2 separate regions of the Homo sapiens genome follow, and region 1 is linked to region 2. The links come from fine-mapping of genetic effects on gene expression. A gene starts in region 2. The other region holds a variant in brackets. All regions are shown on one strand. Distances are from middle to middle.

Region 1 (16,023 bases), 24 kb after region 2:
ACACCCCCTTCCCTTTGGGTGGGAGAAGGTAGGGTCTCTCTCTGTTGTGCAGGCTGGAGTGCAGTGGCACCATCACAGCTCACTGCAGCCTGGAACTCCTAGGCTCAAGTGATCCTCCCACCTCAGCCTCCCCCGCATAGCTGGGACTACAAGGTGAGCACCACCACACCCAGCTCATTTTTCAATTTTTAGTAGAGCCAGGGTCTCACTATGTTGCCCAGGCTGGTCTCAAACTCCTGAGCTCAAGTGATCCTGCCCTGGCCTCCCCACGTGCTGGGATTACAGGCGTGAGCCACCTGAGAGACAGTCTCCAGCTGCAGCCCACAAGTTCTCACCAGCATGGTCCTGCCTGTCCAGGTCTGGCGGACATGTCTGGGAGTCACCGTTTTTCCAGACGTACGCTGGGTATTTTGGTGGCCTGCTTACTCCGCCAGATCTGAGGCTGCTCCCACGGCCTGCTAGAAAGTCGGCCCACAGCGCCAGCCCGCGCACACACACACACCTTGAGTCGGTCCCCCAGTGCATGGCATAGATCTTTGCCAGGTGCCCACGGAGGGTCCTCCGGGTCCTCATCTGGATTCTCCCCACTGGGTCCAGCCCAGCTGTGATCTGGAGGTAGAGACAGAATGCGCTCGGGGAGGCCCAGGCAGCAGGACTGCAGAGGGCAGCGGCCTCTGATCCTTGCCCCTTCAACCCCTAGTTACGCTCTGGCCACCAAGTGCCCTCACCTGGGTCAGTGTTGAGTCCCCACATGCTTTTCGGGCATCCTGTAAGGGATGGCAGAGCCAGAGAGACGCGAGAGAAGACAGGTTGGGGAGGAAAGGGAGAGAAGAGAACAGAAGACAGGAGTGGACAGGGTCAGATTCTGAGCCATTAAGGGGCCCTCCCTCCCCCTTCCCCCACCAACACCCTCACCCAACCCGGTCCAGGGCACCGGGCGGTGTACACATGAATCGCCCGCCCCGCACCAGGCCCTCACCCGGATCTGGTTCCGGAGCTGCTCGGCCTCCTGTCTCAGTTGCTCCAGCTCACTCATGGCGCCGGGCCCGTGGGGCAGGGTTGGGGGCGGCTGGGGGCCGCGGGACGGGGGCTGGGGGAGGCAGCTCCTGGCCGCTGGCCCGAGGCCTGGGGGATGCAGGGCTGACGTCAGGCCCGAGGCCGCCGGGGAAGTGGGGAGAAAGGCGGGGTTGCAGCGCGGCCCGGAAGGGGTAAGCAAGGGGAGGGGGAAGGGGCGGCGCGGCCGCCGTCCCCGGGCACAACCAGGGTCTCCGGCACCAGAGACGTCGCCGAGTAAGAGCCGACTTCCCCAATCTTCCTCCCGCCCCCCGGAAACGGAGCGGGAAGTGCAAGAGGAAGCGCAGGGGAAACCCCTCCCTCGGACACAGCCCGGGCAGGACACCCGCGGCAGGAACTGGGGCGGGGGGGGCGGGGGTGTCCCTTCGAAAACAGACCTGGCTTCTGCCCCAGCCCGCACAGGCACCGCCCTCCAAGCACCTAATTTTAAAAGGGGCGGTGCCTCTTGAAATTCACCCCACAAGGCGCACACCCTCCACACACACCCCCAGCTTCGATGGTGGCGGGTGGGGGGAGAGACCAGAGGGGAAAGCTGGGCTGTTCGTGGGGTTGCCTAGGCAACCGTCACCCGGACCGAGAGCACCTCATTGGTGAAATGCCCCCACCCTAGCCCCGTTGCCAAGGCAACCGCATCCACGGCAGAGACCTGTAGGGTGGGTGACCCCACCCCCGGCCCCATCGCCCCCGCCCGACCCAGCCTCCCGCCCTCCCCAGAACCGGCCCGGGTGGCTGTTTACAGGATTTGGGAAAAGCCGATTGGGCGCTAATAGGTTCTGGACGGCTCACCCCGGATAATCCCCGGTCCGGCTGCGCCCCATTAGCCGTCCGCCGCGGGTGGGGGTGACAGCGGCGGGGAAGGCAGCCCCGAGCCGCTGCTCCCTCCAGCGCAGGGACCGCCCGCCCCGCCGCGCCCGCAGAAAGCCCGTGGGAGCCGCTCTCGAGTAATTACGGCTCCGCAACGAGGTCCCCGGCCCCGAGGCGCGGAGGTGCTCTCTCCCAGGCGCGGGCGGGCGGCCCCAGGCGGCCTGGCCGCGGCGCCCTGGACACCCGGGGGGCCCAGCCCGCAGGCTCGGCGCCCGGGCCCCAGGGGCCCGGCTGGCTCCGCTCCGGGAGCCTGAGTCCTTCCCCGCCCGCGGGACACCTGTGCGATCCGGCCGTACACACTGCACTTGGCCGGCCCAGGCGTCCCCCACCCAGCTCCCACTTCCCCCAGGCGCAGGGCGTTCCTCTTCCCCACTGACATTTCCCCTCCTTGTAAGTTCAGCTTTCTACGCCAGTGCCAAGGGGTGACCCTCAAAATCGGGGGATGGGGGGTGCGGGCAGAACTCCTTACTCTACCCAACCCCCAGGCCCGCACAAAGCCTCTTCCACCTACTAGCAGCCCAGGCCTGGCGGCACCGCCGGAGGCCCAGGGCAGAAGGAAGCACGGCTGGAGGAAGAAACTGGGGGCGGGGGCGACGTTCTCAGCCCTCGGTCCCCATCACCCCCCAGGGCCCTCAGCAGCCCCCAGACTCTAGGGATATAGCAGCCGGCGCTCCATAGAGAAATGAGGGTGCAACCGCCTCCGCAGGTCTGGCGGGGCTCAGGAGAGTGACGGGAGGGTCCCTGGATCTGGCAGCTGGAAGGCGCGGGCTGGTGCGGCGCTGCGAAGCGCAGTGGGCCTGGCCCTCCAGCCCCTACGACCTCCATTTTGCCTAAAAGAAAGCTGGGCGGGGGGCGGGCGCCTGGGAGCTGGGCTTGGGGTGAGGATCTGTAAAGGGAATAGGGCGCCGAGGGCTCCAGTTTCGGCGAGTGGGGCCAGAAACCACGGGCAGCACCCAAATCGTGGGTAGGGTGGAGACGAAAGGAAGGGTGGCGCGCGGCCTTGCCTGCTTCTCCCCGATTTTGGAGTTGTGCAAGGCGAGGGCCGGCAGGGGTGCGACAGTGGAGGACACGAGGGGTGCTCCCCGGGGGCAGGCGGGAGGGTGGCGGTGGGGAAAGGGGGCGGGGCGGGGCCTAGAGGAAGCCCGGAATTTAGCCCCCCAACTTCCGAGGGAGCAAGAGGCAGTCGGGGCTGGGCTGGGGTCTGGGGTCGGGCAAAAACTTCGCTGATGGTGCGGGGAAGCGCACGCACGGTGGGGGGCGAGGGTTCCCCAGTTCCCCTTCCGGGTTTGGGAGCGACCGGGCAAGAGGGGAAGGGAGCGGAGGTCTGGGGAGTTACGTCCGCTCCCAGGAGGCCAGCCCCGGGAGACCGAAGGAAGAGAGGTTCCCCTGGGGGAAATTGGGGCTGGGGGGCGAGAGGACTCCTTTTGCCAGCGAAGGTACCTGTGGCGGTGGGACTCTGCGGCGGAGGTCGCTGGCGGTGCGCGGGCGGCGCTGTCTTCCTCCGCGGCGGAGGCGGCGGCGGCGGCGGCGGCGGCGGCGGCGGCGGCGCGGATGGATTTCCTCAGTGGCCCCAGCCCCGCCGCCAGCGCTGCCTCCCCAGAGCGGAGGGATCCCGCCCGCCAGTGACGCGGCTGCCGCCGCCGCGCCCAGGACCCGGCTGGGCGAGACCAACTGCCTCGCACTTGGGGGAAGCCAGGAGACAAAACCCCACCGAGGGAGCAAAGACGGGCCCAGTCGCTCCCAAGGTTCTCACCCTACGCTTTGTGGACGCAAACCGTACTCAAAGGGTTTGCTTCACGGAAAGGAGTAAGACATCCCCCCTCTGGGACTGGAGGAGGTGGTACTGGCATATGAGGAGGGTGAGACCGCTCGCTGGTCACGTGATCAGCCTCCCGCCCCGCCTGGAATGGGTGGCTCCAGACTGGGAAGGGGAGTTCGACGCCCCAGTTCCCGGTTGGGCCACGCCCCGGCCCTGAGGAGGCCACGCCCCTCACCAGGGGGCGGAGCTAAAGAGACCTGGACGGGGCCGGCCTCGAGGCTGCTGGAAGAAG[AAGC/C]GCGATTCCGAGAAAGTCCCCGAGCGGGAGTGGGTAGGGGCTGATGCGGGCGCCCCGGGAATGCCATGAGAAGGGTCGTGTCCAGGCATTTCCTCAGCCTCGCCCACTGGGCCTTTGTAGACCCCCTTTCAGGGCTTGCCACTGAAATAACAACTCATTTATTGAGAGCCACACTTTTTTTTTTTGAGACGGAGTCTCTCTCTGTCGCCCAGGCTGGAGTGCTATCTCAACTCACTGCAACCTCCGCCGCCCGGGTGCAAGCGATTCTCCTGCCTCAGCCTCCTGAGTAGCTGGGACTACAGGCGTGTGCCACCACACCCGGCTAATTTTTTGTATTTTTAGTAGAGACGGGGTTTCACGGTGTTAGCCAGGATGGTCTCCATCTCCTGACCTCGTGATCTGCCTGTCTCGGCCTCCCAAAGTGCTGGGATTACAGGCGTGAGCCACCGCGCCTGGCCCGACACTTATTTTTTAATTGGAGTACAGTGACGCGATTGTAGGTCACTGCCACCTCAATCTCCTCGGCTCAAGTGATCTTCCTGCCTCAGCCTCCCTAGTACCTGGGACCACAGGCGTGCCCCAGCCACCATGCCCAGCTAATTTTTAAATTTTTGGTAGAGGTGGGGTCTTGCTATGCTGCCCAGGCTGACATATGTTAAGTCTCACAATACTGGGAAATTAAGTGCTAACATTCTCCCCATTTTCTTTTCTTTTCTTTTTTTTTTTTTTGGAGACAGGGTCTCACTCTGTCGCCCAGGCTGAAGTGCAGTGGCATGATCTCGGCTCACTGCAACCTCCGCCTCCTGGGTTCAGGCGATTCTCCTGCCTCAGCCTCTGGAGTAGGTGGGATTACAGGCGCCCGCCACCATGCCCAGCTAATTTTTTTTTGTATTTTTAGTAGAGACGAGGTTTCACCATGTCGGCCAGGCTGGTCTCAAACTCCTGACCTCAGGTGATGTGCCCGTCTCGGCCTCCCAAAGTGCTGGGATTACAGGCGTGAGCCACCGCGCCCAGCCTTCTCCCCATTTTCTAATAGTGGAAAGAGACCTGAGGCTGCAGAGTTTAGATATGAACCCAGGCAGCCAAAACTTTACTGTACATTCCAGTTTATCTGTATGAGCCTCTAGATGAACCCCTTCCTCCAGGGACCTTGCCTGTAAAGGGACAAGAACGTAGGTCTAGGCCTCAGTTTCCACATCTGTTAAATGGGGATGTTGACAGCATCTGCCCTCCAAGTCCCGGATTCTTACTGAGAACCCCATCGATTGTGGAAATGCTTTGGGAAGTTCAAGGCAACGAATAGCCTTCACTGAGTCCTTGTAATTTGAAAGTATCAAAACACGCAGCCATAAGAAAGAACGAGATGGGGCTCACGCCTGTAATCCTAGCACTGTGAGAGGCCGAGGCGGGTGGATCACTTGAGGTCAGGAGTTTGAGACAAGCCTGGCCAATATGGTGAAACCCCGTCTCTGCTAAAAATACAAACATTAGCTGGGCGTGGTGGCACACACCTGTAATCCCAGCTACTCAGGAGGCTGAGGCAGGAGAATTGCTTGAACCCGGGAGGCGGAGGTTGCAGTGAGCCAAAATCACACCACTCACTGCACTCCGGCCTGGGCAACAGAGCAAGACTTTGACTCAAGAAGAAGAAAGAAAGACAAAAGAAGAAAAAGTAAAAGAAAGAAAAGGAGGGAAGGAAGGGAAGGAAAGAAAAAAAGAAAGGAAAGAGAAAGGAAGAGAGAAAAAAGAAGAAATCATGTCCTTTGCAGCAACATGGATGCAGAAAAGAGAGAGAGAGAGAAAGAGAAAGAAAAGAGAGAAGGAAGGAAGGGAAAGAAAGAAAGAAGAAACAAAAGAAAAGAAAAGAAGAAGAAATCGTGTCCTTTGCAGTAACATGGATGCAGCTAGAGGCTTTTATCCTAAGTGGATAAATTTCTGCAGGAACAGAAAACCAAACACTGCATGTTCTCACTTATAAGTAGGAGCTAAACACTGGGTACTCATGAACATAAAGATGGGAACAATAGACACGGGGGATTACTAGAGGGGGGAAGGGTTGAAAAACTACCTATTGGGTACTGTACCCCAGGTGACGGGATCAATTGTACCCCAAACTTCAGCATCACAAGATATACCCATGTACATGGGTACATTCATGTGCACATGAGTCAGAATCTAAAAAGATGAAATTATATTTTAAAAAGTATCAAAACATACTCTTCATTTAGTCTCTGTGAAAGACATTACAAATCACTTTTCAAAAACAATTGTTTTTTCTTTTTTCTTTTTTTTTTTTTTCTGAAATGGAGTCTTGCTCTGTCACCCAGAGCTGGAGTGCAATGGCACAATCTCGGCTTACTGCAACCTCTGCCTCTTGGGTTCAAGCGATTCTCCTGTCTCAGCCTCCCGAGTAGCTGGGATTATAGGAGCATGCCACCAGGCCTGGCTAATTTTTGCATTTTTAGCAGAGATGGGGTTTCATGTTGGCCAGGTTGGTCTTGAACTCCTGACCTCGTGATCTGCCCGCCTCGGCCTCCCAAAGTGCTGGGATTACAGATGTCAGCCACCGTGCCCAGCCTACAATTGTTTTTTCCAAATCGAATATGTTATGAACATAGTAGTTGTCTTTGTAATGGGTACACACACTCACACACACAGAATGATCTGCCTGGTGGGGCAGGGAATTGTAAACATGCCAAAGGGAAAATGAAAAAAGAATCCTGTAGGTTTTCATTATTTTAGGCAATTATGTCCATATCACTTACAAAGCTATTGCCAAATCTGTCTAAGGAAGCAGAGTTTGAAGGTGGGCCGGGGGGGACATCTGGGAGAAATTCGAAAATGGCATAACAGAGCTCTCAATATGAGAAACAAAAGCCCAATATTTTTTTAAAGAAAATATAAACAATCGTATTCGTAGTTAGATGCAAATTCTATTTATGCATACCTGCCAATTCAGTGACATATAAGCAATAGATAACAGATGTCAACTACACATGAGAATTTGGGAGGGACCTCAGAGATAATTACGTTGATTTCCTCAATCTGTAGATGGCCACGATGACTTCCCTAAAGTCACTTAACAACAAGCAGCGCAGGACTACAGCACAATTTTGTCAATCTCAAGAGGGCATGTGTGCTGCTTTGGTTTCTGTGCTAATAAGCTTTCCTGTTTTAACTCATTCCGTTGATATTTACTGAACCGGATGATGTATCAGGCACTGCCCTAGGCAATGAGGATGCAACCTTGAATGACAGGTGCACCCTCCTCATGGAGCTTGCAATCTATAGAGGAGGCAGATGGGCATTGAAATATGGATTAGGGTCAGGCGTGGTGGCTCACACCTGTAATCCCAGCATTTTGGGAGGCAGAGGTGGGCGGATCACTTGAGTCCAGGAGTTCAAGACCAGCCTGGGCAACATAGCAAGACTACGTCGTTAAAAAAAAAAGAGAGAGAAAGAAAGAAATACATGGTGGCGTGCGCCTGTAGTCCCAGCTACTCGGAAGGCTGAGGTGGGAAGATGACTTGAACTCCTGAGGCAAAGGTTGTGGTGAGCTGAATTTCTGCCACCGCACTCCAGCCTGGGTGACAGAGCCAGGCCCTGTCTCAAAACAAAACAAAACAAAACAAACAAACAAAAATGAAAAAATAACAGTGCTTGGCCTGGAGGTATTGTTTACTTCGAGCAGAACATTTGAGATGGAACATATTCTGGGAGGAAGATCAAGAGTTTAAGATTGGGAAGTTTTAGGTTTGAAGTGCCTATGGAGAAAATTTTTTTTGGTGTTTTTGGTTTTGTTTTTTTTGAGACAGGGTCTCACTCTGTCACCAAGACTGGAGTGCAGTGGCGCAATCACAGCTTGCTGCAGCCTCGACCTCCTGGGCTGAGATGATCCTCTCACCTCAGCCTCCCCAGTAGATGGAACTACTGGTGCACACCACCATGCCTGGCTAATTTTTTGTATTTTTTTTTGTAGAGACAGGGTTTTGTCATGTTGCCCAGGCTGGTCTCGAACTCCTGGCCTCAAGCGATCCGCCAGCCTCAGCCTCCCAAAGTGCTGGGATTACCGGTGTGAGCCACCGCACTCAGCCGGATCTCGCTCTGTCGCCCAGGCTGTAGTGCAGTGGCGCAATCTCGGCCCACTGCAACCTCTGCCTCCTGGGTTCAAGTGATTTTCCTGCCTCAGCCTCCTGAGTAGCTGCGACTACAGATACGTGCCACCAGGCCCGGCTAATTTTTTGTATTTTTAGTAGAGACGGGGTTTCACCGTGTTAGCAAGGATGGTCTCGATCTCCTTACCTCGTGATCCACCTGCCTCAGCCTCCCAAAGTGCTGGGATTACAGGCGTGAGCCACTGTGCCCGGCCTCTTTTTTTGTTTTTTTTAACTTTTATTTTAGATTCACGGGGTACGTGTGCAGGTTTGTTATATGGGTAAATTGTGTGACACTGAGGTTTGGAATACGATTGATCCCATCACCCATGTAATGAGCACGGTACCCAATAGGTAGTTTTTCTTTTTCTTTTTTTCTTTGAGACAGGGTCTTGCTCTGTTGCCCAGGCTGGAGTGCAATGGCACGATCTCAGCTCACTGCAACCTCCGCCTCCTGGGTTCAAGTGGTTCGTCTGCCTCAGCCTCCCAAGTAGCTAGGATTACAGGTGTGCACCACCACACCTGGCTAATTTTTGTATTTTAAGTAGAGATGGGGTTTCGCCATGATAGCCAGGCTGGTCTTGAACTCCTGGCCTCAAGTGATCTACCTGCCTTGGCCTCCCAAAGTGCTGGGATTACAGGCGTGAGCCACCATGCCTGGCCCCATTAGGTATTAATAGTTTTCAACCCTTGCCCCATCTTCTTCCTTCTTCCCCCTAGTGGTCCCCAGTGTCTATTGATGCCGTCTTTATGTCCATGAGTACCCAATGTTTAGCTCCTGTTTACAAGTGAGAACATATGGTATTTGGTTTTCTGTTCCTGCTCTAAATTCACTTAAGAGAATGGACTCCAGCTGCATCCATGTTGCTGCAAAAAACATGTTTCTTTGTTTCTTCATTTTGTTTCTTTTTATGGCTGCATAGTATTCCATAACATACATGTACCATTTTCTTTATCCAGTCCACCATTGATGGGCACCTAAGCTGAGTTCATGTCTTTGCTCTTGTGAATAGTGCTGCAAGGAACATACGAGTGCATATTTCTTTCTGGTAGAAGGATTTTTTTTCTTTTGGGTAAATACCCAGTAATGAGATTGCTGGGTCAAACTGTAGTTCTATTTTTAGTTCTTTGAGAAATCCAGGAGAAATGTTTAATAGGTGGCTGTAGACACAGTCCTGGAATTCAGCAGAGAAATCTGGGTTGGAATAGAGCCCCAAGAGTGAGTGGCACATTCTAGCAGATGACGTCATAAAGAGGTGCAGGGAAAAGACAAGATGGCCTAAGACCAAGCTCTGAGGAACTCCGACATTTAGAGGTCAGGTGGAGAACAAGTTGCCAAAGGAGAAGCCGGCGAACTAAGAAGAAAATCAGGAGGATGCGGACTTCTGGAACCCAAAAGAAAAGAGTGTTCCAAAAAAGGAATGGGAAACTGTGCTGAAGGCTGCAGAGACATGAAGCAAGCCTGCCCTGAGAAGTGTGCAGTGGATTGGGTAGAAGCCACTGTAGCTCTGCCTACGGCATTTGCAATGGGTGAGTGAGAAATGATGCAGTGGAGAAAAACAACGTGGACCAGACTTTGGGTATCTCAGCTTGGCCGGGGACCATGTACAAAGCTGGTGCAGCAGTGAGAAGAGGAAGTGGAATCAAGATAGTCGGGGTTTTTTAGGCCGGGCGCGGTGGCTCATGCCTGTCATCCCAACGTTTTTGGGAGGCTGAGGCAGGAGGATCGCTTGAGGTCAGGAGTTCGAGACCAGCCTGGGCAACATGGTGAAACCTCATCTCTACTAAAAATACAAAAAATTAGCCAGGCATGGTGGCGTGTGCCTGTAATCCCAGCTACTCAGGAGGGAGGCGGGAGAATTGCTGGAACTCAGATTACAGGGAGTCGAGATTGCACCACTGCACTCCAGCCTGGGCGACAAGAGCGAAACTCCATCTAAAAAAAAAAAAAAAGATATGTATATTTTTTAGGCTGGGCGTGGTGGCTCGTGCCTGTCATCCTAGCATTTTGGGAGGCTGAGGCAAGAGGATCGCTTGAGGCCAGCTTGCACAACACAGCAAGATCTCATCTCTACAAAAAAAATTGTAGAAACCCTGTCTCTACAGAAAAATTACATATATATATATATATATTTTTTTTTTTTTCCTTTTGAAACAGAGTCTTGCTCTGTCACTCAGGCTGGAGTGCAGTGGTGCTGCGATCTCGGTTCACTGCAACTTTCACTTCCCAGGTTCAAGCAATTCTCCTGCCTCAGCCTCCCAAGTAGCTGGGATTACAGGCATGTGCCACCACGCCCAACTCATTTTGATATTTTTAGTAGAGACAGGGTTTCACCATGTTGGCCAGGCTGGTCTCAAACTCCGGACCTCAGGTGATCCAGTCGCCTCAGCCTCCCAAAGTGCTTGGATTAGAGGCATGAGCCGCCGCGCCTGGCCGTTATTTGAGTTTTGATGAGAGCTACTGGAGCTAATTTAGATGGTAATGAGGAGGGCAGGAGGAAAGAGAGAGGAAAAAGAAGTTGGCCAGATGCAAGGAAGGACAGAGTTGCCAGGTGATGACCAATGAGTAGCCAACTTATCTGAGCAGGCAGGACCCTCGAGAGCAAGTGGCGGATGTGGCTCTGATGGGTCACAGGGCCTCCTTCCTCTACCTCTTCTGGCTTCTTAGCATCTCCTCCTCCTCAGGGCACTCTGCAAACATTGTTTTTCCCAGAATACTGACTTTGGCCTCCTCTGCTCACTCTCCATGTTATTCATTGGTGACTTCATCCATTACTGTCTCCAGCCCAGATGTCTCTTCCCCGTGTGCCGACTTGGTGTACATCCAATGGCTGACTGAATATCCCCACTTAGATGCCCGTGGACAGTGGCATGCTGGCATCCGCTCATGCCAGGTCACGAGTGCCCATTGTACACCCAGCTCCTTATTCAGTGAAGGCATCTTGGTAGCAGAAACTTGAAGAGCTGGGCGCGGTGGCTCACGCCTGTAATCCCGGCAGTTTAGGAGGCCCAGGTAGGTGGATCACCTGAGGTCAACATGGTGAAACTCCGTCTCTACTAAAAAATACAAAAAAATTAGCTGGGCGTGGTGGCGGGTGTCTGTAATCCCAGCTACTCAAGAGGCTAAGGCAGGAGAACCGCTTGACCCCAAGAGGTGGAGGTTGCAGTAAGCCGAGATAGCGCCATTGCACTCTAGCCTGAGTGACAAGAGCGAAACTCCATCTCAAAAAAAATAAAATAAAATAAAATAAGATAGTAGGAACTTGAACTCAGCCAAGGTGTGACTGTTTACGTCATGGACATTGGCAAATGCTTCCGATCAGGGCTCCCCCTTTTTGAAGAGCTGGTTGTTAGGAATGGTGGCTCACCACCAGGAGTTTGAGACTAGCCTGGGCAACACAGCGAGACCCCATCTTCAAAAAAAAGATTAAAAATTATCCAGGTTTGGTGGCATGCCTGTAGTCCCAGCAACTCAGGAGGCTGAGGTGAGAGGACTGCTTGAGCCCAGAAGTTGGAGGCTGCAGTAAGCTATGATCGCACCACTGCACTCCAGCCTGAGTGACAGAGCAACACCCTGTCTCAAAACAAACAAACAAAAAACCATTTACTACACACCACTGTTCACAGACATTTCACATTCAACATATTCAAAACTAAGTTAATCATCTTCCCCTGAGCCCAACCCTGCCCAACCTTACCCCTTCCCTGAATATCCTGGCCCAGTTGACAGCACCAGCACCCACTCAGATATTTCCCATGCCTTCCCTCCCCATATCCAAAGGATGGTCAGTTAGGGTATAGGCGAAGCGGCTATAACAAAGAATTCCCCAAAATTCAGTGACTTAACCTCAAAATAGATACTCCAGGACTGTGGGGACATCTCTGCCATCTTTTTTTTCCTTTTGTTTTCTTTTTGTTTTTGTTTTTTTTGAGAGGGAGTCTCGCTCTGTCATCCAGGCTGGAGTGCAGTGGTGCGATCTCACCTCACTGCAACCTCCGCCTCCTGGGTTCAAGTGATTCTCCTGTCTCAGCCCCTGAGTAGCTGGGATTACAGGTGTGTGCCACCACACCCGGCTAAGTTTTGTATTTTTAGCAGAGACGGCATTTCACCATGTTGGCCAGACTGGTCTCGAACTCCTGACCTCAAGTCTGCCCACCTCGGGCTCCCAAAGTGCTGGGATTACAGGCATGAGCCACGGCACCCAGCTGGTCTCTGCCATCTTAAACATGTGGCTTCTATCTCTCTGTTCCATGGGGCCTAGGCAGAAATCACCATCATATCTGAATGTGGGAAGGGGGTTAAAGCAGGAAGCACAGGTCCTTTCCTGATTAAGGACACCACTAACCTGCTCAGAAGTTGTCCAGATGCAGCTGGACACAGTGGCTCATGCCTGTAATCCCAGTACTTTGGGAGGCCAGAAGAAGGTTTGCTTGAGGTCAGGAGTTCAAGACCAGCCTGGTTAACATAGCAAGACCCCCATCTCTATTATTTAAATTTCTAATAAAAAATGAATTAAAGTCCGGGCACGGTGGCTCACACCTGTAATCCCAGCACTTTGGGAGGCCGAGGCGGGCGGATCACGAGGTCAGGAGTTCGACACCAGCCCGACCAACATGGTGAAACCCTGTCTCTACTAAAAATAAAAAAAAAAAAATTAACCAGGTGTGGTGGCACACACCTGTAATCCCAGCTACTCAGGAGGCTGAGGCAGGAGAATGGTGTGAACCCGGGAGGTGGAGCTTGCAGTGAGCTGAGATTGCACCACTGCACTCCAGCCTGGGCAACAGAGTGAGACTCCGTCTCAAAATTAATTAATTAATTAATCAATCAATCAATTAATTAATTAAAATAAAAAGTTAGTCAGATGCAAGGAAAGCTGGGACATGTAGTCTCTATCCATGTACACAGCTAAAACATTATTAATAAACAAAGAAGGCAATTTAGGAGGCCGAGGCAGGGGGATTACTTGAGCCCAGGGGTTCGAGACCAGCCTGGGCAACGTAGTGAGACCCTGTCTCTATAAAAAATAAAAAATAATAAAATAGGCTGAGCATGGTGACTCACACCTGTAATCTCAGCACTTTGGGGGCCGAAGGAGAAAGATTGCTTGAGCTCAGGAATTCGAAACCAGCCTGGGCAACATAGTGAGACTTCATGTTTGCTAAAGATAAAAATAAATAAATTAATTAACCAGATGTGGTGGCTCATGCCTGTAGTCCCAGCAACTCAGGAGGCTGAGGTGGGAGGGTCCCTTGAGCCCAGGGGATTGAGGCTGCAGTGAGCTATGATCACACCCCTGCATTCCAGCCTGGGTGACAGAGTGAGACCCTGTCTCAAAAAATAAAAATAATTGATGATAACAATAATAAACAAAGAAGGGCAATGGGAAATGGTATAAGAGTAGCAGTCTATGCCTAGTGGATCCATCATGTCAATGTTATCGCTCTCTCTTTTTTTTTTTTTTTTTGACAGCCTCAACCTCCTGGGCTCAAGTGATCCTCTTGCCTCAGCCTCCTGAGTAGCTAGAACTACAAGCACGCACCACCACGACAGGCTAATTAAAAAAAAATTTTTTTTTCTATAGAGATGGGGTCTCGATATGTTGCCTAGAGTGGTCTCCAACACTGGCCTCAAGTGATCCTCCTGCCTCAGCCTCCCAAAGTGTTGGGATTACAGGCATGAGCCACTGTGCCCAGCCCAATGCTATCTCTTGAATACTGCTTAAATCCATCCCTTCTACGGTGTGCCAATTGCTATTACCTTGATTCCTGCCCATTTCCTGGCCTCTAACTTAGTCCCTTTCTAATCAATCTACCAAATGGCTGCCAGAGGTATCTTTCTAAAATGCCAGTTGGGTCAATAACCCTCCTGTTCAAAATCTTGCAGTAGTTCCCAGGGGTTTCCAGGAGAAGAGTCAACTTCTTTGCATGACACAAAGGCCAGGTCTTGTCCCCTCAACTCAGAAATGCCTTTCACCCCTCCTCCAGCTCCACTTCCTTGTCTGCCAGAAAAACCCAGGCCATTTCCTGGGACTTAGTTTAAATATTGTTTTAAATGTTGTTTGTGCCCCACTGCAATGCTGGCTCCATTCCTGTTGAAGCCTTTACTGGACTGTGTATTTCTGGGCACTTGCCATCCATCCTGGGACCGGGGCTCCCTGTGAAGCCAAGGCACTTGGTTTATCTGACAGAAGGCTGGGTGAAGGCTGGGTACAGTGGCTCAGGCCTGTAATCCCAGCACCTTTCGAGGCTGAGGCAGGTGGATTGCTTGAGGTCAGGAGTTTGAGACCAGCCTGGGCAGCATGGCAAAACCTCATCTCTGCAAAAAATACAAAAATCAGGCCAGGCACGGTGGCTCACACCTATAATCCCAGCACTTTGGGAGGCCAAGGCAGGCGGATCACCTGAGGTCAGGAGTTCGAGACCCGCCTGGGCAACATGGCAAAACCCTGTGTCTACTAAAAATCCAAAAATTTGCCAGGCGTGGTGGTGCGTGCCTGTAGTCCCAGCCACTTGGGAGTGAGACAGAAGAGTCACGTGAACCTGGGAGGCAGTGGTGGCAGTGAGCCAAGATCATGCCATTGCACTCCAGTCTGGGCTTCAGAGCAAGACTCTGTCTCAAGAAAAAAAAAAAACCAGTTGGGTGTAGTGGTGTGTGCCTGTGGTCCCAGCTGCTCGGGAGACTGAAGCAAAAGGATTGCTTGACTCCGGGAGACTGAGGCTGCAATGAGCTGTGATCACGCCACTGCACTCCAGCCTGAGTGACAGAACGAAATCCTGTCTCAAGAAAGAAAACAAGGGCTGGGTGTGGTGGCTCACGCCTGTAATCCAAGCACTTTGGGAAGCCAAGGTGGGTGAATCACTTGAGGTCAGGAGTTCAAGACCAGCCTGGCCAACATGGTGAAACCCTGTCTCTACTAAAAATAAAAAAAAAATTAGCTGGGCGTGGTGGTGCATGCCTGTAATCCCAGCTACTCAGGAGGCTGAGGCAGGAGAATCGCTTGAATCCAAAAGGCGGAGGTTGCAGTAAGCTGATATTGCGCCACTTCACTCCAGCCTGGGCGACAGAGCGAGACTCCTTCTCAAAGGAAAAAAAAAAAAACAGCCAGCTTGGGAAACATAGCAAGACCCTGTTTCTACCAAAAACAAAAAAAAGGCCGGGCGCGGTGGCTCACACCTGTAATCCCAGCACTTTGGGAGGCTGAGGCAGTTGGATCATGAGGTCATGAGTTGAAGACCAGCCTGGTCAAGATGGTAAAACCCCATCTCCACTAAAAATACAAAAACTAACCAGGCGTGGTGGCGGGCGCCTGTAATCCCAGCTACTCGGGAGGCTGAGGCAGACAATTGCTTGAACCCGGGAAGTAAAGGCTGCAGTGAGCCAAGATGGCGCTACTGCACTCCAGCCTGGGTGACAGAGCAAGACTCCATCTCAAAAAAAAAAGGAAAGAAAGAAACAAAAATAAACAAATAAAAACGGTTGTAGGCATGAACCCATTGGTTTTATTTTTATTTTATTTTATTTTATTTTATTTTTAAGAGACAGTGTCTCACTCTGTCACCCAGGCTGCAATGGTGTGATCATAGCTCACTGCAGCCTCGACCTCATCCAGCTGGTCATTAATTACTTCATCTCATCTCCTCCTGACACTGACCTCTGTCAGCGGCTCACATCCAACCCTCCTTCTAGACTGAACTCCTATTTCCACATATTCCAGAAGTTTTCATGTCCTTAGACCTCTGTCCATGCTGTTCTCTTTGTGGGATATCTTTCCCGCTTTCTTCACCTATGAGCTTCTATTCATCCTTCACGGTTTTTGTTTGTTTGTTTGTTTTTGAGACGAAGTTTCACTCTTGTTGCCCAGGCTGGAATGCAA
Region 2 (16,023 bases):
GCCAACACGGTGAAACCCCGTCTCCACTAAAAATACAAAAATTAGCTGGGCGTGGTGGCGGGCGCCTGTTAATCCCATCTACTCGGGAAGCTGAGACTTGAAAATCGCTTAAACTTGGAAGGCAGAGGTTGCAGTGAGCCAGGATCACACTATTGTACTCCAGCCTGGGCGACAGAGCAAGACTGTCTCAAAAAAAAAAAAAAAAGAAAAGAAAAAGAAAATGGGCAAATCTTAAACGGACATTTCAGTGAAAGAGAGTATAAGAATGGTAAATAAGCACATCATAAGATGTTCAATATCACTAGCCATTAAGGAAATACACATGAAAACCATGACGAGCTACCAATAACACGTATTGAAATGGCTGAAATACAAAATACGAACAATACCAAGTGTGGATGAGAATGCAGGGAAACTGGATCTCTCATACATACACTGCTTGTGGAAGTGGAAAATCGTACAGCCATCCTAGAAAACAGTTTGGCAGTTCCTTCTAAAATTAAACGTACACTTACCAAATGACCCAGCAAGAACATTTCTTGGCATTTAAAAATCTGTACATGAACATCCATAGCATTTTTTTTTTCTTTTTTTTTTTTTGAGATGGAGTCTTAATCTGTCACTCAGGCTGGAGTGCACTGGTGCAATCTCAGCTCACTGCAACTGCTGCCTCCCAGATTTAAGCAATTCTCCTGCCTCAGCCTCCCGAGTAGCTGGGATTACACATGCATGCCACCACGCTCAGCTACATTTTTTTGTATTTTTAGTAGAGACGGGGTTTCACTATCTTGGCCAGGCTGGTCTTGAACTTCTGACCTGTGATCCACCTGCCTCAGCCTCCCAAAGTGCTAGAATTACAGGCGTGAGCCACCGTGCCCAGCCCGTCCATAGCATTTTTATTTGTAATAGCCCAACGGGAAGCAACCCAGATGGCTTTCTTTTCATATTAATTTATTATGTAGAGATGGGGGTCTCCCTATGTTGCCCAGGCTGGTCTTGACCTCCTGTACTTAAGCAATCCTCCTGCCTCACCCTCCCAAAGCGCTGGGATTGCAGGTATGAGCCACCGACCTCCGGATAACTTTTGATCAGTGCATGGTAAACAATCTATGGCACATCCATCCCATGGAATATTACACAGCTATAAGGGATGGATCAAGGTGACCTGTTAGGCTGCGAACATACCAGTTATATTACATAATACTGTGCTGAACTGCTCATATTGTAGTGTGCAAGACAAGGTGAGCATGATCGCATGACCTGTGCTGAGGGGACATGAATAGGATTGGGTGGATCCCCAAGGAGAGACAGCCAATATCATCTTGAGGGATCCAAGGTTTTCCAAGAGGAAGTAATGATTAGGCAGAGACAGGAATGTTTAGCAGTAGGTCCTATATCCTGTTCCCTTTTTTTTGAGACAGGGTCTGGCTCTGCCACCCAGGCTGGAGTGCAGTGGCTTGATCTCCACTTACTGCAACCTCCGCCTCCCTGGCTTAAGCAATCCTCCCACCTCAGCCTCCTGAGTAGCTGGGACTACATGTGTGCACTGCCACGCCCGGATAATTTTTGTATTTTTTGTAGAGATGGGGTTTTGTCATGTTGTGCAGGCTGCTCTTGAACTCCTGGGCTCAAGCGATCCTCCCGCCTCAGCCTTTCCCAAAGTGCTGGGATTACAGATGTGAGCCACTGTGCCCGACCCATATCCTGTTCCAATACGGAGGTCTGAGCCCTGGGAGGATGGGGAGAAGAGGAGGAACCAGTAAAATCTGAGAAATAGCAGCTAGTGAGGTGGGAGGAAAACCAACAGAATATAGCATCCAGAAAGCCAGGTGAAGATGGTATTTCTGGAGGGAGTGACCGTCTATGTCACTGGCTGGTAACAGGTCATGTAAGATAATGGACCAGTAGATTTCACAATGTGGAAGTCATTGGTGACTTACAACGCAGTTACGTTTGGTTGAGCAAAGAACTTAGCGCAGGGCCAAAAGTAATTCTGAATGCAGTAAATTAATTTTAACGCCCATTATGTCTGATAATTAACAATAAGCACAGTTTATGAGCTATCACTCCATTACTCAGGTCATGTGTCTTTCCATGGTACCTAAAATATGTTTTGCAAACTCTGATATCCACATAAATATCAAGGCTCGCAATTTAGGTGGATGAAGACAAGCTCTGTAATAAACCGATTTGACAATAAACTGATCTGACAACAAGACAGTCCTTATCTCCTTGCATGCATTTCTTTTTTTTTTGAGACGGGGTCTCGCCCTGTCTCTCAGGCTGGAGTGCAGTGGCCCAATCTCAGCTCACTGCAACCTCCACCTCCAAGGTTCAAGTGATTCTCCTGCCTCAGCCTCCCGAGTAGCTGGGATTACAGGCGCCTGCCACCACGCAGGCTAATTTTTGTATTTTTAGTAGAGACGGGGGTTTCACCATGTTGGCCAGGCTGGTCTTGAACTCCTGAGCTCATGATCCACCTGCCTCGGTCTCCCAAAGTGCTGGGATTACAGGCGTGAGCCACCGCATCCAGCCCTCTCCTTACATTTCATCAAAGGAAAACACTGAAGAGGAATCTGCCATTAAAAAAAAAAAAGTGGGGGCGGGGCGGGCGTGGTGGCTCATGCCTGTAATTCCAGCACTTTAAGAGGCCAAGGCAGGTGGATCACGAGGTCAGGGGATCGAGACCATCCTGGCTAACACGGTGAAACCCCGTCTCTACTAGAAATACAAAAAATTGGCCAGGCGTGGTGGTGGGTGCCTGTAGTCCCAGCTACTCGGGAGGCTGAGGCAGAAGAATGGCATGAACCCGGGAGGCGGAGCTTGCAGTGAGCCAAGATCGTGCCACTGCACTACAGCCTGGGCATCAGAGGGAGACTCCGTTTCAAAGAAAAGAAAGAAAGAAAAAGGGCCAGGAACGGTGGTTCACGCCTGTAATCTCAGCACTTTGGAAGGCTGAGGCAGGCAGATCACCTGAGGTCAGGAGTTTGAGATCAGCCTGACCAACATGGCAAAACCCATCTCTACTAAAAATACAAGACGCTTGAACCCGGAGGAGCGGAGGTTGCACCACTGCACTCCAGCCTGAGCAACACAGCAAGACTCTGTCTCAAAAAAAAAAAAAAAAAAAAGAAAAGAAAAAGAAAAGAAAGGCAGAGGCTGGCTGTTTGGTCTGCGTGAGACCACTCTTTCATCTCCATTAACCTTCCAAACAAATCTCTTTGTTTAGTTAAAAAGTTTGCAAATTTAGAACACAGACCAAGACATTTTACAGAGCAGCACCTGAACAAACAAAAACACATTAGCTCCAAATGATTTCTTTATTTTGAGATGGAGTTTCGCTCTTGTTGCCCAGGCTGGAGTCCAATGGCGTGATCTCTGCTCACCGCAACCTCCGCCTCCTAGGTTCAAGCGATTCTCCTGCCTCAGCCTCCCTAGTAGCTGAGATTACAGGTACGTGCCACCACGCCTGGCTAATTTTGTATTTTTAGTAGAGACGGGGTTTCTCCATGTTGGTCAGGCTGGTCTTGAACTCCCAACCTCAGGTGATCCACCTGCCTCAGCCTCCCAAAGTGCTGGGATTACAGGTGTGAGCCACCATGCCCGGCCAATTAGGTCCAAGTGATTTCTTTGTAATTTTTAAATTCTTCATGGGAGACTCACAGTTCTTTTTTGTTTTTTATTATATTTTTTCACTTTTCTCTCTTTTTGAGTCAAGAACTCATTTTGTTGCCCAGGCTTCTGGGCTCAAGGAAGGACAAGGTTTATTAGCAGCATGAGAACTGACTAATACAATCACGGTGGAAGACCAGAGGGGTCTCCCTGGATCTCCTGGACACCAATGTGTGACTTTGGACAAGTAATCCCCACCAACTGTAAAGTGTGAACACTGATGCTGAAGTCAGCAGAAATTAAAGCCTATAAACTCCCTCTTTGAGAAAGGAAGCTAGCTGGCAGGGCACGGTGGCTCACGCCTGTAATCCCAACACTTTGGGAGGCCAAGGCGGGAGGATCACTTGAGGCCAGGAATTTGAGACCAGCCTGGCCAAAACGGTGAAACTCCATCTCTACCAAAAATACAAAAATTAGCTGGGCATGGTGGCGCCTGTCTGTAGTCTCAGCTACTCAGGAGACTAAGGTGGGAGGATCACTTGAACCCAGGAGGTGGAGGTTGCAGTGAGCTGAGATCACGCCACTGTACTCCAGCCTGGGCGACAGAGCGAAACTCCGTCTCGAAAAAAATTAAAATATTAAATAAAATATAAAAACAGACAGCAGGACAGGCACAGTGGCTCATGCCTGTAATCCCAACACTTTGGGAGGCCAATATGGAAGGACTGCTTGAGCCCAGGAGTTCGAGAACAGCCCAGGCAACATAGTGATACTTCAGTCTGTACAAAAATTTAAAAGTAAAAAATAATAGCTGGGCCAGGCACAGTAGCTCGTGCCTGTAATCCCAGCACTTTTGGAGGCTGAGGCAGGTAGATCACCTGAGTTCAGGAGTTCGAGACCAGCCTGGCCAACATGGTGAAACCCTGTCTCTACTAAAAATACAAAAATTAGCCAGGCATGGTAGCACACACCTGTAATCCCAGCTACTTGGGAGGCTGAGGCACGAGAACTGCTTGAACCTGGGGTCGGAGGTTGCAGTGAGCTGAGATCACGCCACTGCACTCCAGCCTGGGCAACAGGGTGAGACTCTTTCTCAAAAAAAAAATAAATAATAAATAATACCCGGGTATGGTGGTGTGCCACTCCCTGCAATCCCAGCTACTCGGGAGGCTGAGGAGGGAGGATCACTTAAGCCTAGGAGGTCGATGCTGCAGTGAGCTGATTGTGCCACTGCACTCCAGGCTGGGCAGCAGAGCAAGACCCTGTCTCTTAAATAAATAAAATAGTTAAAAAAGGAAAACAGACAGGAAAACTCCAAGTGCAGAGAAGCCTAGTGGTACTTGGTGGGGGAAACAAAAGTTGTTCCAGGTATAATAGTTCCTGAAGTCAACACTCTATCATGGCAAGACACCAGGCACTCAAATTCCAAGTCATGAACTTACCTTTTCCTTGTTTTGAGGATTACATTGTGTTGGGCGACAGCTCTTTTAGGCTTCTGGGAAGTAAGGTATACATTCTGGAGTAACTTCCAAAGAAAAAGGTGAAAGCATACGCGGAACTTTTGAGCCTTGAAAAAGTTCAGCGAGTCATTCTTGAAAAGTCCTTTTTTTAAACAAAGGGGGTTTCAGTCACCTCACATTTGCATAGCAGTTTCTCTCTTGTCAAAGCCTTTCACATTCACTTATTTTAATTCTTACAGCACTCAAGGAAGAGTGTGGAGTTGGGGGTCGGGGGTTGGGTGCAGAGCAGTGTTAACATCCTTCTGTAAGAGAAACGGAGGCTTTTGAGAGGCCAGGCGTGGCGGCTCATGCCTGTCATCCCGGCACCTTGGAAGGAGGATCCATTTGGGTCCAGGAGTTCCCGGCACTTTGGAAGGAGGATCATTTGGGTCCAGGAGTTCAAGACCAGCCTGGGCAACATGGGGGAAACCCTGTCTCTACAAAAAAAAAAAAAAAAAAAAAAAAAAAGCTGGGCGTGGTGGTGTGCCCTGGTAGTCCTAGCTACTCAGGGTGCTTGAGGCAGGAGGATTGCTTGAGCCCAGGAGGCGCAGGATGCAGTTAACCGTGATCGCGCCACTGCACTCCAGCCTGGGCGACAGAGCAAGACTCTGTCTTGGAAAACAAACAAACAACAAATACAATAAATTAAAAAAATTAGTTGGGTGTGGTGGCACACAGCTGTAGTCCCAGCTACTCAAGAGGCTGTGGCAGGAGGATCCCTTGAGACCAGGAGTTCAAGACCAGCCTGGGCAATGTTATGAGACACGCCACCCGCCCAGTCTTTACAGAGAATAAAAAAGTTATCTGGGTGTGATGGTGCACACCTATAGTCCCAACAATTCAGGAGGCTGAGATGGGAGGATCGCTTGAGACACGGGAGTTGGAGGCTGCCGTAAGCCGAGATCGGGCTAGTACACTGCAGCTGGGGCAACAGAGTGAGACCCTGCTTCAAAAAAATAAATAAATAGGGGCCGGGCGCGGTGGCTCACGCCTGTAATCCCAGCACTTTGGGAGGGCGAGACAGGCGGATCACTTGAGTGGTCAGGAGTTCTAGACCAGCCTGGCCAACAAAAATAAGCCAAACGTGGTGGTGTGTGCTTGTAATCTCAGCTACTCGGGAGGCCAAGGCATGAGAATCACTTGAATCCGGGAGGCGGAGGCTGCAGTGAGCCGAGATCGCGCCACTGGACTGCAACCTGGGGGACAGAGCAACACTCTGTCTCAATAATTAAATAAATAATTAAAAAAATAAAGAGGCTCCTGAGAGTCAACTTATTTGCCTGAGCCACTTATTTCACACATCCCAGGACGCCTGATGAAGGGTTCTGGATTTTATTGTCTCCTGTCATCCAGGCGGGCTTCCTGGAGGAAACCGGACCGCCAGGGAGGCCGCGGCCTCGGTCCCAGAGGTCGCGCGTCGCGGGGCCGGGGGAGGTGGGGGAGAGGAGGCCGCTCTGGGGCCGATCCCGCCCGCAGCTGGGGGCCCCCGTCACGTGACCAGCCGGGCGCCCAGGTCACGTGTCGGGGCGGGGAGGGGGGGGGCTGTCGGGGGCGACGGGCGTCCGGGCAGTGGCGCGCGCGGCACGCGAGCAGCGCACGAGGAGAGGTGGCGCGGGCCGGAGCCGCGGAGGGAGGCGGCGGCGGCGGCGGCGGCGGCGGCGGCGGCGGCGGCGGCGGCGGCGGCGGCGGCGGCGGCGGCGGCGGTGGAAGGGGCGGCCCCGCGGCCCCGCGTCCGCGTCACGTGGTGCGAGGCGGGCAGCCATCTTGCTACAAACACAAACACAGAGGAGCGGCCGCCGCGGGAGCGCCAGCGCCCCCTCCCCCGCTGCTAGCCGCCGTCGCCGTCCCCGGCCCCCGCCCGCCGCGCGCCGCCCACGCCCCGGGACCGGACCCTCGCGCCGCCCGCGGTAAGCGCCCAGTGGCCCCGCGGCCCCCGGCCCGCAGCCCAGCCCCGGGGCAGGCCCGCCCCCGACGCCGCGGCGGCCGCGCCGAGCCCGCGAGCTAGAGAAGCGCCGGAGCCAGCGCGCGGGCCGCCAGCGAGGACCCTCCCCCGTCTCCTCCCCGAGGCCGCCGCAGCCCGGTGCGTCCTCCCGCTCTCCCGCCCGCTCCGGCCCATCCCCGCCGCCGGGACCCTCCCCCAGAGCCGGCCAGCCTCGGGGAGGCCCCGGGAGGCCGGCGCCCGGCTTAGGGGGCGACCGCTCGCCCCCCTCGCACCTGGCGCCCCTCCCTGAAGGGCACGCCGTCCTCCCGGGCCGGCGCGCTGCCTTCCACCCCCGCGCTCCTAACGGTCGCCCCCGGGCCCCTGCCAAGCCCTGCCCTGGGCCGCCTGGGGGCCCCCGACCCTAGCGTCCTAGGGTGGCCGGGCCCCGCGCTTCCCGGAGTTCTCCCCAGCGCGCCTTTGGGTTCCCCTCGGAACGAGCTGGGCCTTGCGGTTCCCCAGGTCCAAGCGTTCCACGACTTTGGCCAACATGGAAGCCTTGCCCTCCACCCAGGCACCTCGCCTGGGTCCTCCTCACCTCTGTTTCCTTTCGCTCCGGCGATCTTAGTGCTGGGTCATTGGGGTCTCCTTCTTCCCAGTTGCTCGGCCGCGGGAAATACCTTCCTTAGCAGAGACTGCTTGTCCTCCCCGTCCCAGGCCAGGCCCTTCTCAGCTCATGCCCCTCCGTGCAGCAGCTCCCTGGCCACAGCTCTCACACTTTGCCTTAAAAAAAAAAAAAAACAAAAAAATTTCCGAGTAACTTTTTAAAAGCCCCTCGTCTCTCTTCTCTGTTATACAGTCATTACTCGCATTCCCGGTCAGACTCCAGGTCTGTTGCATCCTAGTGCTAGGAACTAGGAGATGCTACATAAAGACTTGTTAGCTGGATTGGATTTTTTTTTTCCAGCCACCCAAGCCTTACTTCCCTCCTGCCTCTCAAAGTGTCGTTCTGGAAGATCGTCAGCTTTCCCACCCTCTTGTGCACTGCCTCTTCGAGTCTATATAGAAGTTTCAATTTAGAACCCCGCCAACCCCTCGCCTTTGGCATGGAAACACCATCGGTGGTACCAGTAAGGGTCTCTCCTTTGCTGCCGACATGGGGGATTTGGGGTTCTTTCTCCTTCCCATCTTTCCTGTGCCCTTTGCAGACCTAGGCTAGCCACCCTCCACCAGGCTAGCCAGCTCCAATCTGATTTTCTTAGATTGTAGGTCTTGGTCCCCCAGCGGTCTGTCGTGCCATTGGGAAGGATTTGAGGGTAGACCTGGCCTTGGTGTCCCTGCCATTGCCTGGGGACCAGGGGCCCTGAGGGTCCCACGTGGTGGTTAGTCAAGTGGACCATGTGCTTAAACTTCTGGACTAGCTTTTTCTGCTGTTGGACACATCAGTCTTGTGTTCGTGATCTGATGCGTTAGCCCTAACTTTTACATCTGCTATTGGAATTTGGGAATTAAAGAAAAATAGCCCACTTTAGAGGAGAGAAGATGAGAGGAGGAGGCTAGATGAAGGATGTTGAAAGTCTAACAAATGTAAAATGGCTTCAAACTCACAGAATAATGCTTGCGAGTTTGGGATGGTTACTGCTACCGTGCGCACCTCCAGTCTTGCATAGTGTCAAGGATGTCGGGGCACGCTGTCGGAGCAGCTTCCTCCTTCTTTTCCCTGGCTGGAGCCCAAGGCTGGGCAAGTGGGCAAAAGGGATCACAGGAGGTAAAGAGTGAAAATCCTTTGAAAACTGTTAACTTGTAGACAATTGCCAAGCGGTGGTGTGATTTGCTGGGATGGCTCAGAGAGGAGAGAGCTGGGATAACCGACCAGCCGCGAAGAATGCGGGTTTGCATCTCTTTTTTAAGCCTCAGCGTCCTCACCCTACCACGCTTGGAGAATCTCCATCCTGAGAAAGGGCCAGGTCCCCTCCAGCAGGCCTGGGGCTGGGCGGTTGTTCCAGTGTTGAGGAATTGGGGACTGTGCTTCTGTTTAAGTGGCTCTGTTCTGTGCCAAGGCACAGTGCTCTGTGTTGGAGCTAATTTTAGGGGTGATGGAGTGAGGAGATAATGTTCTTAGCTGAATGTGCACTGGGACCGCCTGTTCTCTGTCTTTTCTTTCTCTCTTGAGTTCTGAGCCCCAGAGAGCAGGCTCCCTTTCCCGCGCGCCCTGGCGCCTACTGGAGCACCCGGGCCCAGCGTGTCCTCGCCCCTTGTCTCCGGCAGGGGGCAGTCTTTCAAAAGCATTGATTCAGATGCTGGGGGAGTGAGGGTAGACAGGCCCGAGAAAGAGAAGGGGTGGGGAAGGGGCGAGGAGCCGAAGTAGGCCGAGGCTTGAGGGCAGGGCCAGGGCGGGGGACAGGCTGGAAGGGGCCTGTGAGAAGGAGACCCTGAGCTGAGAAAGCTCAGCCGGGTAAGCTGAGACGGGCAGGTGGCAGTACCCCAGCCCCCGCCACCTCCTGCTCTTACCTTCATTGGACAGGGATCAGATACCTGGCCCTGAGAGCTTGCAATAGACAAACTTAGGCAGTTTTTCTTAAAAAAAAAAAATCTATTCTTTTCTCAAAGATTTTCTCCTGGCAGGATTTCAGATTTCCCTCGTGGGACAGTGTAATTAGGGAATGATGTCCCTGCTGTTCAGAGAGGAGAATGACCCAGCGTGCACACACCTGCCTTCCCTTGCCTTCCCCTTGGCCCAGTAGACCCCCAAGGGCTGTGCCCATGCTCGTGGCGCAGAGGAGGGTGTCTCAGCACTGGCGCACTTGGTATCTGGAGTCACATAGCTCTTGGCTGTGGGGCTGCCCTGTGCACCCCCTGCCCAGTGGTGACAACCCAGAATGTCTCTAGACTTGGCCAAGAGCCCCCTGAGGAGCAGAGGTGCCCCCAGTCCAGAACCTGTTGGAGGGTGGGAGCCCCATGGTGGCCTGCAGGTGTGCCACTAGTTCCTTTAGTCCAAGGAAGGGGCCAGGCACCATCAGCTTCCGGCACCAGACCCTGCTGTGGGGGTGCCTAGAGAGTTAACCTCACTCTCCTGGTTTCTTCCCAAGAAGGCGGGTGGCATGGGCTTTTTCCTGCTCTGGGCCTGCTCTCTCCCCTGTCTTGGTGTCGCTGTCCTCAGTCTGCATGAACCATTCCCCCTTTGTGTGCCCCTTGCAGCCAAGACACAGCCAGGATGGGTGACTTGAGCCGGAGGCACCTAGGAGAGCTGCCCTTGCTGCGCCTGGCAGGGGGCAGTGTGAGGCCATCGCTTTAAATTTTTTTTTTTTTTTTTTTTTGAGACAGAGTCTTGCTCTGTTGCCCAGGCTGGAGTGCAGGGGCGCAATCTCAGCTCACTGCAACCTCCGCCTCCTGGGTTCAAGCGATTCTCCTGCCTCAGCCTCCCGAGTAGCTGGGATTAGAGGCACCTACCACCAGGACTGGCTAATTTTTGTATTTTTAGTAGAGACAGGGTTTTGCCACGTTGGCCAGGCTGGTCTCAAACTCCTGACCTCAGGTGATCTGGCTGCCTTGGCCTCCCAAAGTGCTGGGATTACAGGCATGAACCACCACGCCTGGCCACTTTTTCTTTTTTAAAAAATGTTTAGAATTGTTTCTGTAGAGTCGTGGTCTTGTTCTGTTACTCAGGCTGGTCTCGGACTCCTCTCTTCAAGCCTCCCACAGTGCTGGGATTATAGGCATAAGCCATTGTGCTGGCCAGGTGGTCCCTTTTCTGTTCTACTCTCTCCCACCCTCATGCCTCCAGGATGAGCTTCTGGCCTTCTAGAAGGAATGAACTGGAGGAGGCCCAAAATGGCCTCTCCTGAGGCTGATTTGAAGGAATGTGGGGTGTTTTTCTTGGAGTGGGGAAAACTTAGGTATGCGGTGGTTATCTCCAGATACCTTTTGTTCCCTAAAGCTTTTTTAAAAAAATGATTATTGTGGTAAAATATACAACAAAATTTGGAGACTTTAACTGTCTCTAATTGTGCCATTCTGTGTTACTAAGTACACTCACATTGGTGTGCGGCCATGACCACCAGCGGCCCCAGGATCCCCTCCTCAGTTGAGGCTCTGGACCCTTCAGCAACAGCTCCCTGTCCCCTCAGCCCCTGGTGGCTGCCCTTCTACCTTCCTCCCTCAATGAGTGACTGCTCTAGAGACCTCATGAAAGAGAAGTAAGGGGTAGCTCTCCTTTTTTGGCTGGTGTGTTTCTCTTAGCGTGATGTCCTCAAGGCTCATCCAGTCCCCAGATTGCTCTAGGTGGCCACCTGCAGTCAGTGACAGGCTGGTGGCTTTTCATGTCATGGAACACACCACCACTGGAGCATCCAGCCGAGGCAGAGGAAGGAGAGGTCCCAGGGGAGGCCAGCCTGGCCTTGGGTTGCCTCTGAGCCCGGTGTTTCCCCCTGGAGTGCCTGGACTCTGAGCAGGCCTCGGCTTGTCATGGGCTGCTGGCTCAGCTGGGGCTGATGGCCTTTCCTCCTCAGCACCCTGGTTGAACCCGCTTCCTCTTCTTTCCCAGACTGTGGCGTCCTGGAGTTGATGGGAGCTGCAGCACCAAGCCGGGCCAGCCTCCCTCCCAGCCAGTGACAACACCGCAGCACCTGGACCCCGCCCACCCGCTTGAGTCCTCTGCCTGGGGCCCCAGGGATGCGCCTCCTCCTGAAAGTCCCCTCCATCCTCCCTTAGAGGAACAGGCTGCCGCCGCGCCCCCATCAGCCTCCATTGCCCTGACCTTATTTCCACCTGATGGTGCCAGAGGCTGCTTCCCAGCTGGTATCCTGAGATCCTCGTTCCCTTGGTGGCTTGGTTGTTTAAGCCTCCATTATTGATTGGGGGCGGTGGTCTGGGTGTGATTCCTGTGGGGGAAACCAGCCCGAGGTGCCTTGGCTCAGGCTTGCCTGCCTGGAGTCCTTGTCGTGTACCCGTCTGTGGCCCTAGAGTCACCTCCTGCTCCTTTTCACTGGGTTTCTCCCCAGACCAAGCCCCTGGATTTGAGCTTCTGAGCAGCCAACTGATTTTTTTCATGAGGGAAAGAATTTTGCTCCTAGATTTATTTCTAATCCTTTTCTCCGTAACTGACCTTTTCTCTGTAAGCTATTTGTGGCTCTAGTGGGTTTTTGTTTGCTTGCTTGTTTTTGTTTTATCTTTGCCCTGAACGTCCATCCTGGCCTCGGCTGCCTCCCTCCCCGAGTTCTTCACTACACCTCCTGTCTCAGCCTCCCAGAGAGGGTGGCGAGGGTGCTGATGCCCAGAGACACCATCCGGCGAATGGACCTCTCCTGTCATGCGGGGCAGGGCAGGGCTGCCGGCAGAGCCATGTCCTGAACCCTCCCTCCTCCCCCCTGCTCTCCTTAAGGGTCTTTCCCAGATGTGAAGGTCCCTCCCAGGCTCTACTGAGGTCAGACCAATTCCCAGTGGCTTGGGTACCCTCGTTCACTCCAGCACCAGCCCCTGCCCTCCTTCTTCCCGGGCCAGGCTGCCAGGTGAGCCCCGGGCCAAGGGTGGTTGCCCTGCTGAGGCCGAAAGGACTCGAGCTTCCCATCTCCTCGCCTCCCCCAGGTCTTTCACCGTCTGGACTCATCTCTGGGTAACTCATGGTGTGAGTGGCCACGTGGCTGGCTCAGGTGAGTCCTTTTAGACCCCAGGTGACCCACCAGCTAGTCCGGGGCCCATTGTTGTGCCCACTAGGATGTCCCCCATGGTGTCCTCCCTGCGCTTTAAAGTTCTCCTTCGTGTGCTGTTCTTCATGGCCCCTGTTCCCCCACAGGTGTTTGGACAGTGAACGCCAGGTCCCCTCCTCCCCACCCCCGGCCTCTCAAACACGCCCAGCCCCACGATGGCAGCAGAGACACTCAACTTTGGGCCTGAGTGGTGAGTCACTTGTGCCTCGGCTGCCGTGGAGATTCGAGAAAGCACAGTCAGGCTGCCCTGACCTCTGTCTTCTTCTCTCTGTGTTGTGTCCAGGCTCAGGGCCCTGTCCGGGGGCGGCAGCGTGGCCTCCCCACCCCCGTCCCCTGCCATGCCCAAATACAAGCTGGCTGACTACCGTTATGGGCGAGAGGAAATGCTGGCTCTCTACGTCAAGGAGAACAAGGTGGGTGCGTGGGCGAGGGGGGTTGGCGGTGGTGGCCTCTGCCTGTGGAGGGGATCTGGCAGCATGTGGTGTCTTGGCTGTCCCAACCCACTGCCAGGTCCCGGAAGAGCTGCAGGACAAGGAGTTCGCCGCGGTGCTGCAGGACGAGCCACTGCAGCCCCTGGCTCTGGAGCCGCTGACTGAGGAGGAACAGGTGGGACCGGGCCAGGAGCTGAGGCTGCGGGAGCCTGGGAGGGGAGGCCATGGGTTGGGTTAGGAGGAGAGGGGCCAGCGCTGAGGAGACAGGCGGGGAGGGTGCTGTGGGGTGGGGGTGGAGGTGGTTGGGTGCCTGGGTCCTCACTCCCGCCCCTGGCTCCCTCCTCAGAGAAACTTCTCCCTGTCAGTGAACAGCGTGGCTGTGCTGAGGCTGATGGGGAAAGGGGCTGGCCCCCCCCTGGCTGGCACCTCCCGAGGCAGGGGCAGCACGCGGAGCCGAGGTAGAGGGGTGATGGCGTGTCCTGGGGACGGGCAGATCTGGGCCCCTGACTTCGAGAACGTGCAGCAGGTTTCATTGTGCGTCTGGCCTCTTCTCTAGGCCGCGGCCGTGGTGACAGCTGCTTTTACCAAAGAAGCATCGAAGAAGGCGATGGGGCCTTTGGACGAAGCCCCCGGGAAATCCAGCGCAGCCAGAGCTGGGATGACAGGTGGGGCGGGGAGGGGGCATGGCGCAGAGCCGGGCAGGCCAGGGAGGGGAGGCCTGGGCCCTGTCGCTAGAGGGTAACAGAGGCCCACCAGATAAGCCCTGTCCGAGATCCCGGTGCTCCTGACCCCTGGTTTCGTTTGTCCCCTTCCTCCCTCCACTGCCTCAGGGCACAGTGGACAAGGCATGGGGCGGTTGCACAGGGTGGCAGGGGAGGCTGTACTGTTTCTGACCCACACGTTTCCCCTGCTGCAGAGGCGAGAGGCGGTTTGAGAAGTCAGCAAGGCGGGATGGAGGTACGAGGCTGCTGAGGGCGGCGGCCGGGGCGGCAGGGAGGACCAAGATGGGTGGCCCAGTCTGGGGGTGCTTATTTCGGAGGTGTTGGGGGCAGGAGGGCCTGGAGCTGGCCCCCCCAACGTTTCTTGAGGGTCCAGGCACCACGCTGCCTTTCTAATAACTGCCCCTGTCTTCCCGTCTCCCAGCACGATGTGGCTTTGAGGAGGGAGGGGCTGGCCCAAGGAAGGAGCACGCCCGCTCAGACAGCGAGAACTGGCGCTCCCTACGGGAGGAACAGGAGGAGGAGGAGGAGGGCAGCTGGAGGCTCGGAGCAGGGCCCCGGCGAGACGGCGACCGCTGGCGCTCCGCCAGCCCTGGTGAGATTGGGGCCTGGTAGCATTGGCGGGGGCAGTGGGGAGCAGGAACTGTAATGAGAGGGTGGGCTCCTGTAGCCACGGGGAGGGAGCAGAGGCTGGCTGGTGTGGGAGTGGCCGGGACAGCAGCCCTGGAGGTGCTCCGTGAGCTGCAGCAGAGGGGGCCGCTGGCTTCGCTTGGGTACCCACTCTTCTTCTCCCTGACTTTTCCTGTGCAGATGGTGGTCCCCGCTCTGCTGGCTGGCGGGAACATGGGGAACGGCGGCGCAAGTTTGAATTTGATTTGCGAGGGGATCGAGGAGGGTGTGGTGAAGAGGAGGGGCGGGGAGGGGGAGGCAGCTCTCACCTGCGGCGGTGCCGAGCGCCTGAAGGCTTTGAGGAGGACAAGGATGGGCTCCCAGAGTGGTGCCTGGACGATGAGGATGAAGAAATGGGCACCTTTGATGCCTCTGGGGCCTTCTTGCCTCTCAAGGTATCTGTGAGGAGGCGAGGGTGGGAACCTGCCCTTCCGGGGTCCTCTTCCTCCCCACCCACCCCAGCTGTTCTCTGCTCCCCACCCCGGCCCCATGCAGAAGGGCCCCAAGGAGCCCATTCCTGAGGAGCAGGAGCTGGACTTCCAAGGGTTGGAGGAGGAGGAGGAACCTTCCGAAGGGCTAGAGGAGGAAGGGCCTGAGGCAGGTGAGCCGCGGGGTGCCCAGCGGGCCTGGGGCTGGGCCGGGCAGGCACTGGTGTTCTTTGCCGGGCTGGGCATTGGCTGCCCACCTACCTGTAGAATCAGGCTACTTAGATCTGGAAGAAGAGTGCTGAGAGGTGGGGAGGAACCAGGGGGTAGCAGAGCCATGTCTTCAAGGCAGTGTACCAGATAGAAATCAGGCGTAATCAAAATGACCTTTGAAAGTCCCTTGAAGAAGCTGTAGAACCTGGAGTGACGTCTGCGGTGTTGTGTGGTGTTGTGCGATGTTGTGATATGTTCCTGCCGCGTCTGGCAGCGTGGAGGCGAGGGTCAGGGCACCGCATTCCCTCTGCCATTAGTTGAGTTGACCCAAGTGAAGTGGTGGACTCGGCCTAAGGGAGTGTGACCCGCGGTTCCAGCCACACTCAAGGGCTTGTGCTAACTCGCGTGGCAGGCCCAGCCCTTGGTTCTGAACTCTGGCCATCTCCCTCTTCTAGGTGGGAAAGAGCTGACCCCACTGCCTCCTCAGGAGGAGAAGTCCAGCTCCCCATCCCCACTGCCCACCCTGGGCCCACTCTGGGGGACAAACGGGGATGGGGACGAAACTGCAGAGAAAGAGCCCCCAGCGGCCGAAGGTAGGAAGGGAGGATGGCCTACCTCCCGGGTGCGCTGGGGCTGTGGGAGAAAGTGCTCCCCACTCGTGGGGGTGGGCACACAGGGCATTCACATTGAGGAGCCATGGCAAGAGCGTGGTGTTCTGGAGTGAGAGTAGGCGAAAGCTATCTTGTCTCCTCCCCGCCCTTCTTTCCACCTCCTATCTCATGCCTTCCAGATGATATTCGGGGGATCCAGCTGAGTCCCGGGGTGGGCTCCT

The links. PIP is the estimated chance that this variant, and not a neighbour inherited with it, causes the effect.
Region 1: its variant is fine-mapped to the expression of GIGYF1 in whole blood (TOPMed, PIP 0.93).

The regions. Positions count from the first base shown.
Region 1 is chr7:100,661,279-100,677,301 of GRCh38, reverse strand. It overlaps GNB2 (G protein subunit beta 2), which reads right to left and starts at 3,562. Exons shown (of 10, transcript NM_005273.4): 1 at 3,379-3,562; 2 at 980-1,125; 3 at 729-767; 4 at 503-609. The coding sequence starts at 1,036. It overlaps LOC105375429 (a long non-coding RNA gene), which reads right to left. Exons shown (of 3, transcript NR_133946.1): 3 at 10,876-11,200. RefSeq lists silencers at 963-1,542, 1,553-1,792, 3,383-3,562, 3,813-3,892, 3,903-4,032 and enhancers at 2,463-2,542, 2,743-2,952. The variant AAGC/C (reference allele first, on the strand shown) is at 3,990.
Region 2 is chr7:100,685,105-100,701,127 of GRCh38, reverse strand. It overlaps GIGYF1 (GRB10 interacting GYF protein 1), which reads left to right and starts at 6,878. Exons shown (of 27, transcript NM_001375765.1): 1 at 6,878-7,018; 2 at 11,573-12,536; 3 at 12,613-12,677; 4 at 12,821-12,924; 5 at 13,018-13,147; 6 at 13,245-13,340; 7 at 13,512-13,623; 8 at 13,722-13,830; 9 at 14,082-14,122; 10 at 14,309-14,479; 11 at 14,695-14,948; 12 at 15,049-15,154; 13 at 15,647-15,784; 14 at 15,982-16,023. The coding sequence starts at 12,890. RefSeq lists an enhancer at 4,969-5,772, silencers at 6,460-6,619, 7,060-7,159, 7,330-7,449, 9,212-9,381 and a cis regulatory region at 6,311-7,804.